Linked DNA regions of Homo sapiens: region 2 is linked to region 1. The links come from fine-mapping of genetic effects on gene expression. Tissue or cell type: whole blood. Region 1 holds a variant in brackets; the other region holds the start of a gene. All regions are shown on one strand. Distances are from middle to middle.

Evidence for each region. PIP is the estimated chance that this variant, and not a neighbour inherited with it, causes the effect.
Region 2: it holds the start of LINC01871, and the variant in region 1 is fine-mapped to the expression of LINC01871 in whole blood (TOPMed, PIP above 0.99).

The regions. Positions count from the first base shown.
Region 1 is chr2:7,431,712-7,442,375 of GRCh38, forward strand. The region is part of intron 4 of LOC100506274 (a long non-coding RNA gene); the gene reads left to right. Among named protein-coding and RNA genes, the nearest start is that of LINC01871, 290 kb to the right of the region's middle. The variant G/A (reference allele first, on the strand shown) is at 5,602.
Region 2 is chr2:7,721,079-7,731,742 of GRCh38, forward strand. LINC01871 (long intergenic non-protein coding RNA 1871) reads left to right here and starts at 4,701. Exons shown (of 2, transcript NR_183384.1): 1 at 4,701-4,775; 2 at 9,438-9,643.

The DNA.
Region 1 (10,664 bases):
GGTGGAGTCCTGATCCTGGCCACAGCCAGATGATTTTTGGAATAACCCGGCTTCAACTTGTTCATCACAGTTTATTCCCAGTTGAGTGCTTTTGTTCACCCTGGTCTTTATTTTGGGAGAATCTTCTGCTTTGTACCATGAGCGTCACTGCCTGTGGAAACCCTCTCCATCTGTGAAGTCCTCTTTCATATGGCCTGGCCGTCCATCCCCGCAGGCATTCCAAACGTCTTCTCTTTGGAGCACCGTGTTATTTCACCGTGGTATTTTGCTTGTCTTTAATAAGAATACCAAAGATACATAGTAATTGAGGCTTCACTAAGTTCCAGGTGCTAAAACCTGTCACATGCATTAATCTCATCGGGGTTGGTACAGTCCCTCAACACTGGAATTGTACAATCGTCATTTTATATGCTGGGGACCAGGGCACAGAGGCTGAGTGCTGGCAGGGCCATGGCTACCATGGCTAGATGCCCCGCAGCCCCCCGCCCCCACCCCCACACTGCCTTGTGTAGGTGTCCTCTCTATGTGTCTGATGGCTTTCCTGGGACTGGAATCTCCTTTAGGACTGGACTCTAGCATCTTTCCTCTTGGTGATCCGTAAAGGGCCCGCCTTGCAGACACAAGGGATAAAGGAGATGGAAAAGTGGCATCCGGAAATATCCTGAGCACCCACACTGCCACCTGCAGTAGGATCATCCCTGTCACACATGTGACTTCACCCACGCGGCCACCCACAAGGAGAGTTCTTAACTTCACCATTTTTTTAAATGATAAACATTAGATTTTGGGTGTACTGGACAGTAGAAAACAAAAATGTATATAACAGCTCCCGTTACTTATTATGGCTACTTGTATTGATGTGGCTCATGGGCTGCTCTCAGAGTGGATTTCTTCAAGGCGTGATGGACATGAGCTCCAGCTTCCCTCTCTCCTCTCTCCTCCAGTGTGATGCCTTCACCGGTTGGGAGTCATAGTGAACTTCCTTCTTTTCAACATTGCTTTAATGCTTATGATACTTATTTACAAACCACAACTCAGTGAGACAATTACTGTTAGCCATAATTCAGAAGTGAAGAAATCTAGATAAAAGAGTTAAAATGCCTGTTAAAATCAGAGAAGGACATAAACTCATTCTTGTACACTGGAAGTCTCAAACTCTTAATTCTTCCTTGGCCTAGAGATGAGTTTTTTTGGACCACATGATGTCTTCTTGTATAAATTTGAATTTATTAAAAGGTACTTAAAAAGTAGAATATTTTACGTTTTAAATATCCAGATTTCTAGTCTGTCTAGACAAATATCAGATGACCTGGCCACACTGGGCCTTCATTTTCACATGGCAACAGTCGGTACTGATTTTCCTCTGAGCACCATGTATGAAGGTGGCATCTCCCGTGTGCCCATCTCCACCCTCAGTCTGTTTCCCTGATTCACAGCATCTGTCTGGCTCCTGAAGGCATTGACTTTGCCTGGTTATGCTTCAAAAGCGCCACCTCTGTCCGTGGAATAGTCTCTCATAGAAAAACAGCTCTCTCTGTGATCAGAAGGTCTTATTGCCATCAGAATCTGTGGTCTATATCTCTTGAGCTCTGCATTTTGACATAGATTTCAAAGATTAGGAAGGTTATCACAGAGACCTAAGTATGGTTAGACATCAGAAACTCCATTAATTATTAGTTGCATCACCATTTCCATTCATGCAGAAAAATAACTTGATAAAATTTATCTCTTTTTTTGTGGTAAAAACAATCCTCAAGAATGGTCCTAGCCATTGCAATATGAAAAGAAAAAAAAAGAAAGAAATGAAAACTTTAAACATTTAAGTAATAGATAAAATTGCTATTATATGCAAATAACATATTTTAATAGAAAATTCAAAAGAATCCCCAAACCATTAACACTAATGCCTACTATATTCAATTCATTTATTCAACAAACATTTATTGAATGCAGTGGCTATTCCAGTTGCAGTAGGTGAGAAGTGCAGACAGTTATGCTTAGATGGGGCTAGTCTTTTATTTGTTTAAAAATAAATTTGTAATGTGTCTTATGATGACATGAATGCTCTGGAAAATAATTTAAAAAATAAATTTATTCACATATATTTTTTGAAATAGATGGTGATCAGAGAAGGGCTCATAACAATGAGATGACATCTGAGCAGTGCCTTGAAAGAAGTGAGGGAATTAGTGAATAGCTGAGTGGAGTGGGGGGTCATTCTATACTGGAGAACGATAAGTATGAATGGTTCAAGGTGAGGTTGGAGAAGTGATACAGGTTCAGATGACTTAAGCCCTTGTAGCTCCTTGAAGGATTTGAGATGGGGGCCATTCATGGTCTTCACACTCATTGCTGAATGAAGTACAAGATTGAAAACTGAGCAGGCTCTTTTTTACCACCTCAGCTTAGGAGTGTGCAGTGGATGTGGGGGTGTGTTGCTCATCACTCCCCCTGAGGTCTGAGGTATTTATTATCCCTGTTGTTGAAGTGTCGGGTGGCTCCCCGGGACATCCCTCCCCATAAATTTCTCAGATAAAGAAAGCCATCTAGCACAAGGAAATGTCCTCTCCCTAGAAGCTGCCCACTTCTAATGATGGCTGACATGGGAGGAAAAAGACACAGCTCATGCCTCCATCTGGAACAATTCTGAGATGCGATTTCACCTCCAGGGCCCTTGCGGGATCAGCTAAGGCTCTGCTGGAAATGAATCACAGTTCAGTTCAAGTCTTCCCTCTGCCCAGATCTCCACCTCTAACTCCCATACAGGTGAATTCCTGAAGGGCTGGCCCAATAACCTCCCATACCAAATCTGTGACTCGATTTCCCAGGGAACCAAAGACAAGTGGTACATTCTTATTTTTTTTCAACAAGAAGTAGTCACATTCTCCCATGTTGGTGAAAGTGCGATGAGAAATGCAGTCTGTGTGCCTGGAAGAGAAACCCCATTGGCGAGCATTTACAATGTCCGTCATATGTCCCTTTAGATATCTACAAAGATACTAAGTAAGCAAGTTGATGTATGAACCCAGACTTCAGGAAGTATGTCCAGACTGGAGATAGTAATCCTGGGTGGTATTTAAAGACATGGAACCAGGTGGTATTACCTAAATGCAGGTGGAGAAGAGAAGAGATGCAAGAACTGAGCTGTGGGGCACACCGATACTTACAAAATCCAGGAGATAACAATGAGCCCGGAAAGGAGACTGAGAATTTAAAGATGGGCGTATTCTGTGTGATAAAGCTCCTCAGTAAACGCACTAAGAGACTCCCACACTTGTACACAAGGAAACATGTAAAATGGACACTGCAACATTTCTTTTTTTGTAATACAGAATAATGGAAATGATTCAAATATTCAGCCACATAAGAAAGGATAAATAAATCATGGCAAAATCGTAAAGTGACATAGAATATAGCAGTTAGAACCTGTGGGCTTGCATGGCGTGTGTTGATATGGATAAATCTCAAAAACTTAATGTTGAGTGAAAATCCAGGTTTCACCAGTATCCATTTAATATGCTACTATTCATAGGAAGCTTTAAAAGCATTCAAAATACACCCTAGATTGCTTATGGACACACACTTGTGTAATAACCATCTGCACATGCGATGCTGTACATTCTGCAGTGGGGGAGGGAATGGGAGTTAGTGTGCATCCTGCCTGTCATACATGCTGCCCTTTGCTAGCCTTGTTGTTGCTGTTGTTGTTGTTTTGTTTTGTTTTGAGATGGAGTTTACTCCTTTACCCAGGCCAGAGTGCAGTGGCATGATGTCAGCTCACTGCAACCTCCGCCTCCTGGGTTCAAGTGATTCTTCTGCCTCAGCCTCCCCAGTAGCTTGGACTACAGGCACGCACCAGCACGCCTGGCTAATTTTTGTGTTTTTGGAGATGGGATTTCACCATGTTGGCCAGGCTGGTCTCAAGATCCTGACCACAAGTGATCCACCTGCCTTGGCCTCCCAAAGTGCTGGGATTACAGGCGGGAGCCACCATGCCTGGCTCCCTCGTAATGTCTGAGGTATTTTATACAGAAAGACACCTTCCCATCTTACTATTATAGAGCCCCTCAAATATTAACAAAGTCAGCCCTGTTAGGTGTCATTTGTAACCACAAATTGAAAATCACTGGTAGCCAGTACCTTTGATTCACTTGTGTGTTGCCAATACATCATGATGATTACAGTAATAATAATGAAAATGATTGTAATGATGATATACTCTTTGTTTAGCCTACATTGTGGTGGACACTTTGCCAAGCCTTCTGATGCATTATTTTATTTAATCCTCTGTAGGATACCAGAATAGAGAGATGATTATTACTCTTATTGTGCAGATGAGAAAACTGATGTCTAGAGAGAATGAATAAATCCCATCTTTCACAGCTGGTAAGCAGCAGAACCAGAATCTATCCCATCATTGTTTTCCTCTAGAGAAAATATTCACCCTTGAGAAGCTTCACCCTCTCTCTGCACAGTGTGAGCCTCAGACCATGTGTTCGGTTATTGTCTGTTAACTAAAAGTGAACCACCAGAACTGGAGGTGCCTGCAAAGGCCAGCAGGAGTAACAGCATGCGTCTGACACAGGTCCCAGAGAAGTTCTGGCTTCTCTTCTTTCTGAAGTACTGAACCACAGAGTAGTAGCAGAAATACCGTCAAGCCTTCTTTCCCATGTTCCCACGGCAGTGAACCCATTCGTGCTCTGAACACTTTCCATTCCACATATTTCTTCATAACAGAAGGTGTCAAAATGCTCCATGCTTCCTCTTTTGGGGAAATTAACTTAATTCAATTGAACTGCACTTATAATCACAGACGGGAATGACCTCAGAGAACTTCATTTCAACCCTCTCATTTTACAGTGGAAAGGAAAACCCCCAAATTTAAGTGACGTCCTTGTTCCATATAGCACCCTTCCTTACTGGAACCCAGCGACTCTCAGTTCTATTTGCAATGGAGAACCACCTGGGGAATTTGAAAACATTCTGCTGCCCTGGCCACATTTCCACATACTCTGATTTAATTGGCCTGGGGAGGGACTTGGCTTTCGAACTGTCTTCATCTCCCAGGTGCTTCCAATATGCAGCCATGGTGGAGAACCTCTGCTTTTTGTCTCCTTCCCTGGCACATTCACATAAACACATCTTTGATCTTGCTGGCCCAAAGAGTAATGACTGAAGCTGTGAGCTTATTTTACCAACAGAAATGGGACTGGTTGGGAACAAATTGGGCAATGTTTGCTCTTCTAAAAACCCTCTGAGGTTGTTCTTAGGAGACTTTTCCCCCTATTTTTCCATAGACAGGTCTTCTGATATGTTAGGTTTTCTTCAGTGCATTTTTTGAGAGGTAAAGAAAATAAAAAAACATTGTTTTTATCAGCCACAAATGGAATATATTTGGGAGTAATGGCAGCTCAGAAAGTTAAGGATTGGATTTAGTTATATTTTAATAATCTGTAAAAGCCTAGCTCCAGCTAATAGAATGCATATTTTATTTAAAGCAGGCATTGTCAAACTTCTTCTGTAAAGGGCCAGATAGTAAACATTTTCAGCTCCACAGGCCATATGGTCTCTGTTGCAACTACTCAACTCTGCCATTGAGGT[G/A]TGAAAAGCACCCACAGATAAGACATAAACAAATGGGTGTGGTTGTGCTCCAATAAAACTGTATTTAGAAAAACAGACAGTGGGCTGAATGTGGCTCATGGTCATTATTTGCCAACCTCTAAAATGTCAGATTAGAAAAAGTACTGTTTGATGATGCTCCAACTCTAACAAAGGCCAAAATAGAATTTAAATGTTTTGCTTAGATGGTGGGGGTTTCTGAACTTAAGAAAAAATCCCTAATGTTGTTTTAATATTTGACTCGGGTGTCCAAAAGCTTGCAAGACCCCAGTAGAAATTAAACAGAGTTTATTTCAGTGCCTTTTGAGCATCTCTGTATCTTTTTAATACATCCTACCTTTGGTGCTATTTACAAATGTTTCTTTTTTCATCTTAATAAAAATTTAGCAGAAAAATCTGCTAAACCCCAGAAGCGTCAGATAATTACTTGGAAAATGGAAAGGCAGTGAACACTAGTCATTTCATAATTTCAATTTTATGATTACTTTATTACAGAAAAACTTTCATAATAGTTGCATCATTTGAATCAGTTTTCGGTTTCAGCCCAAACCACGGGCACTTACGAAAACCTACCCTAACTTGATTTAGGTCTTCGAGCAAACCTAGAAAAATACTTACTAGAATGAAAAGAATCCTTAATGTGTTCTAATCATTGCTATGAGAGGTTGGAAGGCAGGCAAATGCTTTTCCTTTGCTGTTCTCTCAGCTTATAACATCCTGCCTAATTCTAATAGCATCTTTCAGGAATAGAGGAAGATGGCATTGAAAGTTAAGTGTGACTTTCCACTGCAACTCGGCAATGACCACTCACTTTTGCATTAATAATGAATGAGTATCTAAAGGTTAGTGAGCGAATGTAGCAGAACCAGCCAGAGGGAGTCATCAGGAGGCATCCCAGCTGAAATACACTGTGCAAGCCTGGGAGGAAAGAGGTTCCCCTGAAAGGCACTATCTGGACTGATGGGTTTTCAGGGAGCCAGTCATTCACTAAACCCACATAGGCTGGGAAGCAGATAAAGAACTGAGGCTGCAACGTAATCAGATGGGATTTGGGAACAGAAAGTCAGATAATACCATGTCTGTCTGGACCTTAGACCAGGGCTCTAGAGAGTTCTCTGAGTAAAACGGCAAAGTTTGAGACTTTTGCAGGACACTTTCAACTCTCAGCTGCCTTCAACTCCTTATTGTCACTTTTGCTTTGTTTACTTTACTGCAGTTTTCATTTATGTTTTCTCACACCTGTAATTCCAGCACTTTGGGAGGGTGAGGTGTGTGGATCACCTGAAGTCAGGAGTTCAATACCAGCCTGGCCAACATGGTGAAACCCCGTGTCTGCTAAAAATACAAAAATTAGCCAGGCGTGGTGGCAGCCGCCTTTAATCCCAGCTACTCAGGAGGCTAAAACAGGAGACTTGTTTGAACCCAGGAGGCAGAGGTTGCAGTGAGCCGAGATCACACCATTGCACTCCAGCCTGGGTGACAGAGCAAGACCCTGTTTCAAAAAATAATAAATAAATAAATAAATAAATAAATAAAAATAATAAATAAAATTTAGGCAGCAAGAGTAGGAGGTTTGATTGTGTGTCTGTTGCTTTAGTCTCAGGAGCCTAATCAGCCAGCCATGAACTCATGGTTATAGGGCTACAGCATTCCTATGACTTTTAAAGTCCTAAGATTGGTTCAGTCAACAACCCAAAAAGACTAATCATAGTGTGAAATATCTACTTCCTGTGAACTGTACATTGTCATATTTCCACTTTAGTGCTGGGGAGCGCTAAAAAAAACCATGTTGGTGCTAAAGAAAATACCTTCTTCTTCATGTCAGCAGGGAAAGTTTGAAAATTAGCCTTGTTTTCTACCAGCAAACTCTATTCATTTGTTCTTTCATTAAATCCTATTACTGAAATTCTGCTGGGTGCCATCACTGTACTAGGCATGAGGAATACAGTGGTTAGGAAGATCCTGTCCCTCTCCCAAGGAGTTCCTAGATAGGTATGGAAGGATGACAAGAAATAAATAGCTACCGCTATTATGAGTCGCATGGTAAGAACAGGGTGCTGGGACAATTCATAGCAGTGAGTTTCTCCCAAATCTAGGAGTCAGAGAAAATTTTCCAGGCGAGTGATATCTATCTGGAGACTAAGAGGATGAAGATGTCTTTGTTTTACATCTGAAAATTTATGTCAATTTTATCAGCTGATTTGAATTTTTGAATGAGGATTGCAACTAGAATAGATTGTTGGTTTTTACATTAACTCTTCCTCTAATAAAGTTGCCATTTTTGTCCCATCACAAAGAATGTATATTAAGTAACATTATATGATTTTTAAGAAAATCATGTATGATTAAGTAATATTATACAATTTTTTAAAAAATCATATATGATTAAGTAACATTATACAACTTTTTGTTCAAGAAAGGACAAAAACATTACTGGAGAAACTAAGCATCTGGTTCATCCGATGTCATTAGACACTAGGGCCTACAGATAAGAAAATGATGATGAAGAAATGGCAGAATTTCCCCTTGATGATGGGAGGCTTGGTCAAGGCCAGGAAGACCACTATGTAGGGACCGTGTGGAAGAGACCTTCAATACTCTGACTCACTCCCCAACTAACATAACTGCTACTGACTGCTGGCACCATATTTTAATCAAACTTTTTCAAGATTCATCCATCCATTCATTCAAAAATATTTTTAATGAAATATTTCAATAACAACTGAAAGTGAAATGGCCCTTTAAATGGAAGAGCTCATTTTTTGTGAGTGAAGCAAACAGGAGAGTCATTCCCATCAGGGTGTCAGGACCATTCGTGGTTGGCATATGTCAAGTGTTGATACTCAAAGGTGGGCAGAACTAACTCAACCTGAGAAAACAGAAAAAAGTTCCAGATTCAGGCAGGTGGGGAAGAGAAAGAAGAGCATTCTGTTTGGTCCGTTCAGGATAAGCCCAGTGAAAGGACAGGATGTGCTTTAGAAAGAGCGAGCAGCTTGGTTTCTTTAAAACATTAACGTTCTGGGAATAAGGATGGAAGGACAATTTGAACAGAATGTGGGGACATTTTTTCACTTTTGGGGATTTTATGCTTTGATCAATTTGGAATTACTAAAGGACTTTGACCAAGGCAGTGATTCAATTAGTTTGTCACGTAGAAGATTCTTCTGCCAATACAACGGTGAAGGGCTGACCACAAAGACAATAGAGACAAATGTGTGTGCATATGTTGGGGTAGGTGGAGAATAAAATTCAATTGCTCTGTTGAGAGATAGTGCATTGAAAGGATGTATTGAAGGCAATTTTGGGAATTAAAATGTTCAACATTACTTGACCTGTGAAATGTGGAGGTCAGCATGAGGAATCAAGAATTATTATCATTTTCTCATAGAATACATGTTATGGCACAGGGGAAGCCAAGAGAAGCATGTTTAGGGGAATATGTCATGAGATACAATAATCTTAGGTGATGGGCTTCTTGATGTGCCTCAGCTTTCATCATGTATTTCTTCTTATTTCCTTCACTCAGAAGCTGTAATTTATGCAAGCTTCGACTGACTGTAATTCACTTACTGCTCAATGAATATTCCTCTGAATGATCTGTAAAGGCTATTTTGTCCAAAAGCTGTGTCTGGGACAAATGTGATAGTGTCAAGGGATTTCATTCTGGACAAATGCATAAGAAAAAAATTTTAAAAGCTGAACACGCCAAATTTCTTATGATAAAACATTTCTTTAAAAAATAGGAGAAAAAAGTACAACGGCTTTAGAAATACCAGGTGAGGGATGTGTGAACTGATGAGTCTGTGGCTGTCACTTGCCCGTTATCACACGGTAAAGTGTCAGCAATGCCTCCACACCAAGTTAGACAAAGAGAGCCTTTAGAACCTATTCTAATTACTCTAGAGATGCCCACAGAAGGCTGACTCTGCACTCTGTTGATTTATTTGAGTAAAAAAATTAAGTGGTTCAGACATAGGATGGATATATAAGATCAGTCTGGGATTAGCTCACTGCACTGTATTCCTTTTCCTGTGTTCATGGGTCACTTGAGCCAGTGGAGCTCTGTCTATAAGAAGACCTTTGTGCCTAGGGCTGAAGCATGGGGAAATATAGCATGTTCTCCTGTTTTCGATCATTGTGTCCCATCTTAACTGCAGAATGAGTGTTGGAAAGAAATTCTGACTTTGAATTTATCACAAAACACCCTTCAGTGTAGGATCCCAAATACTCTCTGAATGATTAAATAAATAAGTGAATGGATATCTTTCCTCCTGGAATGAAAATGGTATTTAAAGTAGACCTGGGTTTACCTCCCAGCTCTGATCTTGATTAGGTGTAAAACCAGGTGCAACCTATTTGACCCATCTTAGCCCCAACTTCCTCCCTTACCTGAGAAACAGGTAGAGATACCCATTTCATACACTAGTACATAAGGAGCAGAGGTAATATAAGCAATGGACTTTACTCATTGTTTCAACAGTTGGCTTTCAATGCATGGTAGGTCTTACTAGGGTTATAAAGATTCTTTGCCAAGTGTCTGATTCTCTAAGCTTGATATGGTTTGGCTGTGTCCCCACCCAAATCTCACCTTGAATTGTAATAATCCTCATGTAGGAAGGGTGGTGCTAGGTGGAGATAATTGAATCATGGGGGCAATTTCCCCCATACTGTTCTCATGGTAGTGATTAAGTGTCACAAGATCTGATGGTTTTATAAATGGGAATTCCCCTACCCAAGCTTCTTGCCTACCACCATGTAGGACGTACCTTGCTCTTCTGCCATGATTTTGAGGCCTCCCCAGCCATGTGGAACTGTGAGTCAATTAAAACTCTTTCCTTTACACGGAGCTTGCAGTGAGCTGAGATTGTGCCACTGTACTCCAGCCTGGGCGACAGAGCAAGACTCTGTCTCAAACAAAACAAAACAACCAAACAAAAAACCAAAAACTCTTTCCTTTATAAATTACCTAGTCTAGGGTATGTCTTTATTAGCAGCATGAAAACAGACTAATACAAAGCTCTATCATATACCCACCTTGTCAAAAA
Region 2 (10,664 bases), 290 kb after region 1:
TGTTGTTTTTTCTGCTGATAGCAAAGCTCCATGCCAGGAAGGCATTTGCTCATTCCTTGGAGCTGGCCTCACAAAACAATTCACAGCAAAATTAAAGCAACTTAAGAAGAAACTTGAAAATCAGAACAACCATGTGCTTAAGCAGGAGAAGACCCACTAATGTAAAACGGAGACAAAAAGCCCTAATTAAATGCCGAATCAAACCAACTCTACTTTCCTTTTTCTTTTTTTTCTTTCTTTCTTTTCTTTTTTCTTTTTCTTTTTTTTTAGGGAGAGAGTTTTAACCTTTTAGTGATTCCCTTATTCTGAGAAACAAAAGAGAGGGAGTTGCAGAGCACAGAACTCTGCAGACAAAATGTCCCAAATTTCCACCTTCTATTCAGCAAAGGGGACGAGGAAAAGAGGATTTTACCCAACCTATATGTAGGGATTGTTTTCTTAAACTACTGACAACAGTGCCAGAGAAAACCCACGCTGAACGCCTCCTTTTGACTTTCTCATCGGGAGTCTTCTCTTACCCGTCAGATTCTGGTCCAGAAGTCCCCCCTGGCAGCTGTCACCCTACGGATTTGCAGAGATGAACTCTCTTACTGGGCCTCCAGTGGAAGTGAGAAGGAAGCTGATTTCTGCAGAGGAAGACAGGGAGATGACAGGTTTCTTTGATAGATGTTTGAATTTTGTTTTTCTAGGGCAAGGCAACTCATTTGGTGGACATAACAGGCAATCTGGTCTCCACACAGACAATCCAGATGGTTGTTACGAGTTGAGAGGAGCTGGCCATCGGGAGGCTCAGGCCAGCTCTTTTATTACAGACCATCTTCTCCCCACAGTCTGCAAGCTGCATGGTTTCCTCTGAAGGACTGCGTGTTTAAAAATTCAAACATCCATACGACTCTTTATTTTCAAAAATTAAGTGCTACATAGAAGTATGCTAAACTCAAGGCCATGAAATACTATCCAGTTTTGCCATCTTCCTAAGGCAAAATGCTCATGAGTTGGAAGCATGGGACACATTAATCAACATAGAGCTAATCCTGGCTCTGACCTTAGCTCACTGTATGGCCTCAGACCACTCACGTCTCTTCTCTGGATTTTATCCACCTCCAAGTGTAAATAGTCTTGGGTCCCTATCAGTTTTGACAGAAAATGATAGGTTTAATTCAATAAGTCTGTCTCAATTCGAATCACTGGGTTTTTAATTAGTACAGTAGTCTTTCCTTAATTACAGGGGATACATTCTAAGACACCCTGTAGGTGGCTGAAACCACAGGCAGTACTGACCCTATTGCCATCAAGTGGAACATGTTTCGGTTCATGTCTTCTATCCACAAATGTAGAGCCTTTTTCATTTTAACTAAGCACTTAACACGCACCGCAGCTGTAACTTTTGCAGTTTGAGGTGTGACAGCAAAACTAGCATGAATTTCTTTTTTTCTTCACAATTTCTTGAGTAGAAGACTGAATCTTAGCAGCCTCAGCACACAATTTTTTTTCTTTCCTGAAGCCGAGAACTTTCCTCTTTTCACTTAAAGGCAGCACTCTATGGCTTCTGTTTAGTACATCGACGTTGCCAGCATTACTACTCTTGCGCTCCAGGACCATTATGCAGTAAAATCAGGGTGATCTGAACACAAGCATGGTGGCACCACCATAGTCGATCTGATCTCTGAGGTTGCTGCTCAGTGAGTCATGAGTGGGGAGCATGGATAGCGTGGATCCGCTGGACAGAGGCTGATTCACTTCCCAGGTGAGATTTCACTCACATGACGCAGGACAGCGAGCAATGTAAATTTCTGAATTGTTTATTTCTGAAATTTTCCATGGACTATTTTAGACCACAGTTAACCAAGGGTAACTGAAACTTTGGAAAGCGACCCCTAGAAGCGAGGACTATGGCATGCACTAGATGCCGGAAACTGACAGCTACATGCTACATGCTCTCAGGGAACTCAAAAAATGCACTACTATCATCTGTATTTTAACCTTGATACTAAGTGTAATTTTTAACAGTGTGAAGCCAAAAAAGAGGACTTGAAAAATCATAGACATTCTGAAGCACTGACTAATTAGAGGACTCAATCGACACTTCCAGAAATACCTGGAACCCAATACAATGCTAAACAATCCAAGCGCTAAGCTAGGCTAAGCCAGTTTGGCAAGGGGTGAAGGTGAAATGGGTGAAGAACCTGAGAGTGCAGAAGGAGTTAGAGAAGCTCTGTTTGCAAATGAATCTAACTACATCTTCCTTTACAGGAATGAACGTGGAAGTGTATCCAACTGGAAGAATAAGTCCAAACCAAGGAGATTTTGAGAGTCAAACTTAGGGAAAACCAAGAAGAAACTAAAAGTCCAGAGATTGAACCACCAAATGTAAGAACTAATCTCCTACTAATAGGAGGAATCAACATGTTCTTTCCAACAGACCTGTAGCCTCTGATGGCACACAGTGTCACTGAGATCAGCTGGGTGGTCAGGTGTTTGAGCCACCTTGAAACACCAGCAGCTGAGGAAAAGAGCTCCTGCTGCACCTGCTGGGAGCGGTGGGGTTGGGGCTTCCCACTTCCCGAAGCCCTGGAAAAGGGCACCCAGACATTTTACAGAATCCTTGAGATGGAAGGTGAGTTTTCCAGGCCATTCCACAGGTTAAGCCTGCTGGCTGATTCAGCCATACAGGAGAGTTTGCCTGGGAATGGATACCCCAGTGGCTGCTACTTTGACTGATAAAGCAAGCCCAGGAAGATGGTTGAGAATAGTTTGTGCACTCCGATTATCTCTGACATTTTCCCAACTCATAGTTGGAGCAGAGCTATGACAAAGGCATGCATGTTGCTAGTGCAGACATCCTCTTGGCTGTTAAGGGCTGAATTCTGTACCCCCACGTTCATATGTTGAAACCCTAACATCCAATATCTCAAAATGTGCCTGTGGAGACAGGGCCTTCAAAGAGGTTGCTGAATTAAAATTTGGTCATATGGGTGGGCCTAATCCAATCTCACCTGTGTGTTTATAAAAGGAGATTAGAACACAGACACGCCAGGGGGAAGACCATGTAGGGAAACAGGGCAAAGGAACTGCCTGCAAGCAAGAGAGAGGCCACAGAGGGAACCAACTCCGCAGACATTTCGATCTCGGGCTTCCAGCCTCCAGAACTATGAGACAATACATTTCTACTGTTTAGCCACCCAGTCTTCATACTTTGTTACAGGGGCCCTAGCCACCTGTAGACCAGCATAGGGTCAAAAAGCTGTCATGACCAAGTGCCCACACTGGGTCAGCAGTCCCAGAAGCAGTATCAGAATCATCTGTGCAGATAAAACTCTGAAGTCCAAGAAAGAGCCATTGGCACACAAATAAGACCAGAACAAATCAGGGAACCAGGTGATGACCTTTACTGTCAGAGATCCGTGTATACAGTACAGTCAGCTGACAAGAGGGCTCTCAATCGTGGCCACATATTTGAATCACCTGGGGAGCTGTTAAAACCCATGACACTAGGTCACAACCTAGACAAATGAAATCGGAATCCCTGGAGGGTGAGACCCAGGCATCAAGAAGGATTTAAGATCTCTGCAAGATTCAAATAGGCAGCCAAAGTTGAGAACAGCTGGCTTAAAGAGATTACGAGACTTTGTTACAGTATCTCAGCACGGATTACATTTCAATTTAGTTCTTTGCTATTATTCTTATCCTCTGAAATGTTTACACCACACGACGGCCTATCACTGGCTCTGAATTTTATATCATAATCACATAATAGGTTCCTCACTTAAGTTGTAGACATAGGCAAAACTTTTCTTGTTTTTGATGTAAGATAAAGGGAGAGAATGACTGGAGCAAAACAAAAATAAGATAATACAAAATAAGTCATGGGGTGGCATCACATTTTAAGAGTCTTCATTTATGACAAAAGCACAAGCTTATTTGTTGGGGACATAACTTTTGCCATTTTTCCTACCTTGACTGTTTAAGCTCGCAGCAATTTTATAGCTCGCTGTACAGGCTAAGGCTTTTGGTGCCTTTCTTTTTTAAGCTGTGTCAAAATACCTTTAAGGAAAAAAGATGATTTGAAAGGTATAAACCCAACGAAAGTAATAGCACAGTTACAGTTTTTGTGTTTGGGCAGATTTTAAGACATTTCTATGTATTTTTCTGACACAATGGATCCTAAGGACTGCCGTAGACGTAGATTAGTCTGATTTTAGGCCATTGCTTTGCAGCATTATGCAGTTTTTATCTGAAAGACGTTTCAAGAGGGGGAGCTAGTTAGCTAATTAATTAGAGATTGTGACTTAAATTTTTCAGACAAGAGATACTTTCCGAGTTTAAGGAGAACCCGAAGAAAGCTGCGTTTCTGTATCCGTGCCATGGGAAGTCTCCTGTCCTGTTTCCACTCTGCCTTCTCCATAAAGCAGGCTGATTATCAGGGCCCTCACACAAGCCCAGCGTGGTAGCTGATTAAGGCTTGACAAGCAAAAAGCAAACAGGATTTCTAATCATGTGTCTCATAGAAATGGAGCCACAAAAACCCAAAGAATTGCCATTACACCCCAAGTCATGCAATTTAGAGCAACTCAGGAAATAGGTGCACACAAGCAAACCATGTGGTTAAAGCCTTTGGAACTGGTTTGAGCAAAGCTGTAGGTGATTTGACAAAATCATCTGCAAAACCAGATTTCTAACACCTCCCTGCTGTGTATCTCATTTCTGCTGATGTGTGGTGCTTCATAAGATGGGGACGTTAAGCATGCAGCAACTACAGTCATTTGTTCTCAGAGGTGAGTGTTGCAGTTATTTTTATTACTTTTTCTCTTCTTTACTCTATTCCTTGCCTCTCGCCAGACATTCCTTAAACCACCTATCAACTCTCCCCTCACAGTCTTCCTTTTCTGTCTGCATTCTTTTTTTGAACCCAAATCTAACTTAGCTGCTTTTGTGGTTTTTCTATTCACTTTGTCAATTTCTCCCTTGGTTAGAAAATAAATTCCTGTGCACACTCACACCTATGCAAGGGCTGCTCTCAGACATAGCAGGAGGCCAACTTCAGCCTCAGCCTCTTGAGCAAACATTCCCAAGAGGGAAGAGCAACATGGGTGTGTGTGTGTGTGTGTGTGTGTATTGTGTTTATTTGTATGAAATGTCAATAGGGCATACTAATAGCTTGTGAACAAGTATCTATATCAAGATAGACAACCCCAATACATTCGACATGTTGAATATTTAACATGAATCACACATTTCTTGTGAATTGTGAGCAATATAGTTGTACTTATGTGTATAGATATGTGTACATTTATACATGTATATATATAAGGTACTCTCTATAGAGTACCTTATAGCTTACAAAGTGATTTCAAGTACATTTTCTCACTTGACCTAGAAGAGAGAATAAGTAGAATGTGCACATCTTACTCCACAGGGAACCCCTCTTGGAGGCCGGTCTCAGAGCTAAGGTGATAAATGGGGCCAAGAACAGTGGCTGATGCCTGTAATCCCAGCACTTTGGAGGCCGAAGTGGGTGGATCACCCGAGGTCAGGAGTTCGAGACCAGCCTGACCAACATGGTGAAACCCTGTCTCTACTAAAAATATAAAAGTTAGCCAGGCATGGTGGTGGGCACCTGTAATCCCAGCTACTCGGGAGGCTGAGGCAGGAGAATTGCTTGAACCCGGGAGGCAGAGGTTACACTGAGCCAAGATCACACTCCAGCCTGGAGGACAGAGCGAGACTCTGTCTCAGAAAAAAAAAAAAAAAAAAAGATGGTAGATGGAGTGTGACAGTTTGTGTTGGCATTTTGGCTTGGCAGAATTAAAGCCTAAAGTGCAGGGCCAAAAAGAGCCAGATTTGCAGCCTAGCTTCACCACTCCCTAACCATATTGCACTTGGGCATGTTCCTTAATCTCTCTATGTCTCTGAAACAAGAGGAAAAATCTCTTAGAGTTATTTGTGCAGAGTGAGCTACGATGTGTAAAATGATAGCCATTATAGCATGCACGTGAGCATGTACTATTAAACATAAGCAATCATTTGTGAAGCATGTTGAGATGCACATTGTCTAGCACCCCTGAGCCACCTTGGCTGTCCCGTAGCAGTCCCCAAGAGTCCTTTTCTAACATGGTTATGCCAGAATAATTTGGTTAGTTCAGGTGGGGTGAGCACAGTGGGGCAGGAACTGTGTCTAGTGGTTGCTGGGCAGTTTTGCACCTGGAGCTAGCACAGTCAGTTTTGTTGCACAAATGTGTGCCAAGCACTTTTCATAGGTCAGAAGCTAGAGAATAGTGTGCTTGTAAGCAAGCAATGAGAAATAAGATGGGAGCTCTTATTGGGGTTCCCTAGCTTCACCATCTTCAGTAACTTCCATCTTTGGTTCTGGCGGGCTTTTCTGAAGGACAGAACAGAAGCCCATGATAAAGGTGGGGTTGAGAATTCAAAAGAGATCTTTAGAAGTAGAACAGGGCCAGGGCCCATGTTAAGATTGAACTTTAAGGCCAGGCACGGTGGGCTCACACTTGTAATCCAGGAACTTTGGGAGGCCAAGGTGGGAGAATTGCTTGAGGCCAGGAGTTCAGGACCAGCCTGGACATCATAGTGACCCCCTATCTCTGCTAAAATAAAAATTTAAAAAAATTAGCCAGGCATGGTGGTGCACATCCATAGTCCCAGCTACACAGGAGACTGAAGAGAAAGGATCACTTGAGCCCAAGAAGTTGAGGCTATAGTGAGTTGTGATCATGCCACTGCACTCCAGCCTGGGGGACAGAGCAAGACACTGTCTCCAGAGACAGAGAGAGAGAGAGAGAAATGAAACTTTGGGAAGGAATGAGAGTGATCACCAGGTAGTGCTTCTGAGGAAGCTTGCTCTGATGGAGCTGACAAAGTGCCTTTATCTACTATGGATTAAGCATTACAACCCCAAAATCCAAAATCTGAAGTGTTCATAAATCCAGAATTTTTTGAGCAGTTACATGACACTCAAAGAGAATGCTTATTGGAGCATTTCAAGTTTCAAATTTTTGGATTTGGGATGCTCGATGGGTAAGCATAATGCAAATATTTCAAAATCTGACAGAATTCAAAATCCAAAACACTTCTGGCCCCAAGCACTTTTGATAAGGGATATTCAATCTGTACTACCCTACCATGAAAATGAAGTCTCGGGAGAAATGAGTTCTATGCTTAAGACTGAAAACTTACAAAACTTTATTCTTTGTCTAGGAGAGACATGAAAGCTATAGGGAAAGGGATGCAATTATTATTGTTGGTTTTAACCTTTTTGAACCCAGTCTAATTCACAATGAGATTAATGACAGTGTTTATTGAGCTTTTCCCACTTGGCCAACAATATGTTAGGGGTGGCAATCCCGATAACAACCTAAGAAGTAGACTTTCCATTTTACAGATAAGGAAACTGAGGCTTGGAAGGATTGACTTGCCGAAAGGCACAGACAGAGGAAACGGCAGCAGTGCGATATGCCTCTAGATAGTCAATCTGGGGCTTGCCCTCTTCACAATAATGACAGTAGCCACTGCATAAGGGCCTGGTGAGGACTGGAGACAACACATGCAAAAGAACCAACAGATTCTCGGCGCAGTGCATTCATGCATGTACGGATGTCATGTATGAAAGTGCCTGGAAAAGGGCGGCCATTGCACATTCCTTTTGCACTTGGGAAAACTTCATTAAAGTGTACCATGTAGTCAAATGGTTAGCCCGATTTGGTGTATGACTGAGAAATGGGTGATGCCCTCCTGGCCTGAATTCAGGAAACTGCACATCAGGGAAGCAGAGCTAAACTCTTAGGGACCCAGAGTGGAATTGTTTAAAGGCTAAATCACCCCCAAACCGCACGCGGTTCTCGTCAAAGTTAACGGCAGTGGCTCATGTGTGCGTGGACACTGTGTGATCCTCCATAGGGAAGGAGAGCAGCAGTGTCCTCAAGGATGAAGCCCTTCCAGCCGAGCCCCCATTGGTAAAGAACCTGACAGAGGAAAAGATGCTTCTGTTTCTGGGAAAAGGCACATTATACGAATCCAGGGCACTGCCGGAATACAGCCCTATAAGATATATCAGTACATTCATATGCGTGCTCCTATCACCCATCCAACAAATTGAATGAAATTAAGAAAGGAGCAGTCATCATAAGTCATATCTACTCAGAAATGTATATTTAAAAGCAGGCTGCTTTGGACAATGCTTCGCTCATTAAGACTCTTTTTAGGTGCATTGTTTACTGTGTAAACCCTGATTAATTTACAGTTTTTCTTTTTGCCTGACTCATAATTACTCTATGGAAAATACAATTTTGGAGAATACAACATTAACTACATAGGATTGGTATTAACAGTCACGGACCCACTGAAGGCGAGTTTTACTGTTCGCTCAATGAATGTCCTTCAGTATCTCTAAATTAGATGGAAAAGCATCTATGATTTCAGGGCCCATTTAAATAAATTAAAGCCAGAAATGAGTGTGCTAACTTTGCATGGATCCAAACATTTGCCACTGTTTTCCTGTCTTCCCTTTCTACCATTAAATTCAACCCGACCTTTAGAATTTGTGTCCCCCAAGCAGAAGATAGATGATTCCCGTGTATCAACCTTGTATTAAATGCCTACCATGCACTAAGCACTAGGAAAATAGGGAGGAAACAACACCCTGGATACTTTTCTCAAGTAGCTCTCAGTGCAGCGGGCTTAGCATGGAAACAGAAGCAGCAAAACGTTGTGGGAAGTGTCTGTGTAACATGCGGCATGGCTGTTATTTAATCCCAATTAAAAGGATGAGAAAGTTGAGGTTTACTAAAGTTAAGGAACTCCCCTAGGTCCATAGTTAGCAAGCGCTAGAGACAGAATTCCAAACCAAAGCAGTCTGCTTGAAAAGCCCAGTTTTGTCCCACCCCTTCCCTAAGCATTTGTTCAGATGGGAGTGAACAATGCATAAAACTGGCTGTGGCATTCGGCTGACCTGAGATCTAGTGGTGGCCTTATTCCCAGCATGCAAACTCTCACTGACATGCAAACCCTTGCTGACTACTTCATATGAGAAGGCAGCACCATTCCTCTGTCATGTATGAATGCAATTTTCCTGAGACATTTTTATTTTCTGTTGCTTGTTTTTAAATAATTAATGCCATTGTAACAGCAGCCTCTCTTCATTTAGGAGGGCATTTCCACTCTGAATTTCCAGTTCCAAACATTTCAGTTTTCCACCAAGACATCATTCCTGGGTTTGGGATTCCTGAATTTTCTCCACACAGAGGTGACTGCTTTCAGTGGAAAACTTAGCGAAATTGCATTGTTCTCCCTGAAGTATCTGTGTAACCAAAACAATGTTACTGCTATATGACATGTTGTAGGCATTCTCAATACATTTGGAAAATGCAAAAGTAACTGTGATCTAACATCTCAAACTGGCTATGGATTTATTTTCCTGTGGTCAGGTCTGGACCAAAGAGAAACAAGAAAAGCTGGAGTCACACTACCAAAGGCCGAAGCTGAGCAACAGAGCTCTGGAGTCAGCTGCCTGGGTTCAGCATGCAGCGCTGCCGTGGACGATCTGTCTCTCTTGCATATATGACTTACCAGTTTTACTTTCAGTCTCTCCATTTCTAATTAAATGAGATGCAGAAATGCTGGTGCCTTGCTATGATGTTTGCAGTTATTATTTCTAGGAAAAAAAATATTATTGTTACTCAGTATCTGGTACATCAAAACTAAGCCAGAAACGTTTAAAAAGAACAAAAGTATCATTTCTACTTAATTCTCTAGCTACTTGGACAACTGGACTATGCCCCTCCTTTCAAGGGAGGGCAAAGCATTTCAGAAAAGAACTAAGTGCTATTTCTCTGCTTCAGGAATGTCTCCCGTATGTAAAAGAATGTGGCTTCAGGGAGTAGCATGTGTTGTAAAGGTGGATGGGTCTAACTTCATGGACAGCTCTGACATCCACTAGCTATGCCACCTGATGCAAACCACTTGGGCTGTCTGTAGTTTCGTTTATCTTTCTGGAATTGGTAATAACAACCACCTGGCAAGATCACTGTTATGAATACGGAGGATCAAAGTTGTGAAGTTATTTTGTAAAGTGAAATGTTCTGAAAATTGGATTTTAACAGTGTCAGCGAAAAGTAGATTTTTGACATTTATCAAGAGTTCAGCTAATGAAAACAAGTATGGATAATAGTTACATAGAACTGTCTACTTTACTCAGTACTTTAGCATATGCTATTATATTTAATCTTCTTAAAAAGTAGAAAATTATACAAGCCATGTATTACTATTATTGTGGTGGTTGTCGTTCTCAATTACACACTGAATATTAAGACCTCTCAGGTAGCAGCTGGAAGGACATTGTATCCAGTTTCCTGATTGTTTTCAATGGAATAATCATGTATACATGCACTACTAATGAGACAATGGTGATTCTAAAAGCTTAATCAGGGGGACTTTTGTGTATTCCAAATCTACTAAAAATAAAGAAACACAGAAATGAGAAAAATGTACATTAGCAAGAAAATGTACACCAGCATTCAGGCTTAGCCTTTTGAGAGCAATATGATAAATAGAAATAGAATTTCACAAATTTAACATGATGCTAATCGAGGAATGAATGAAAAAGTGGTCAGCAGTCTAAATGGAACATAACACAAAGAGATCTCGTAAACAGT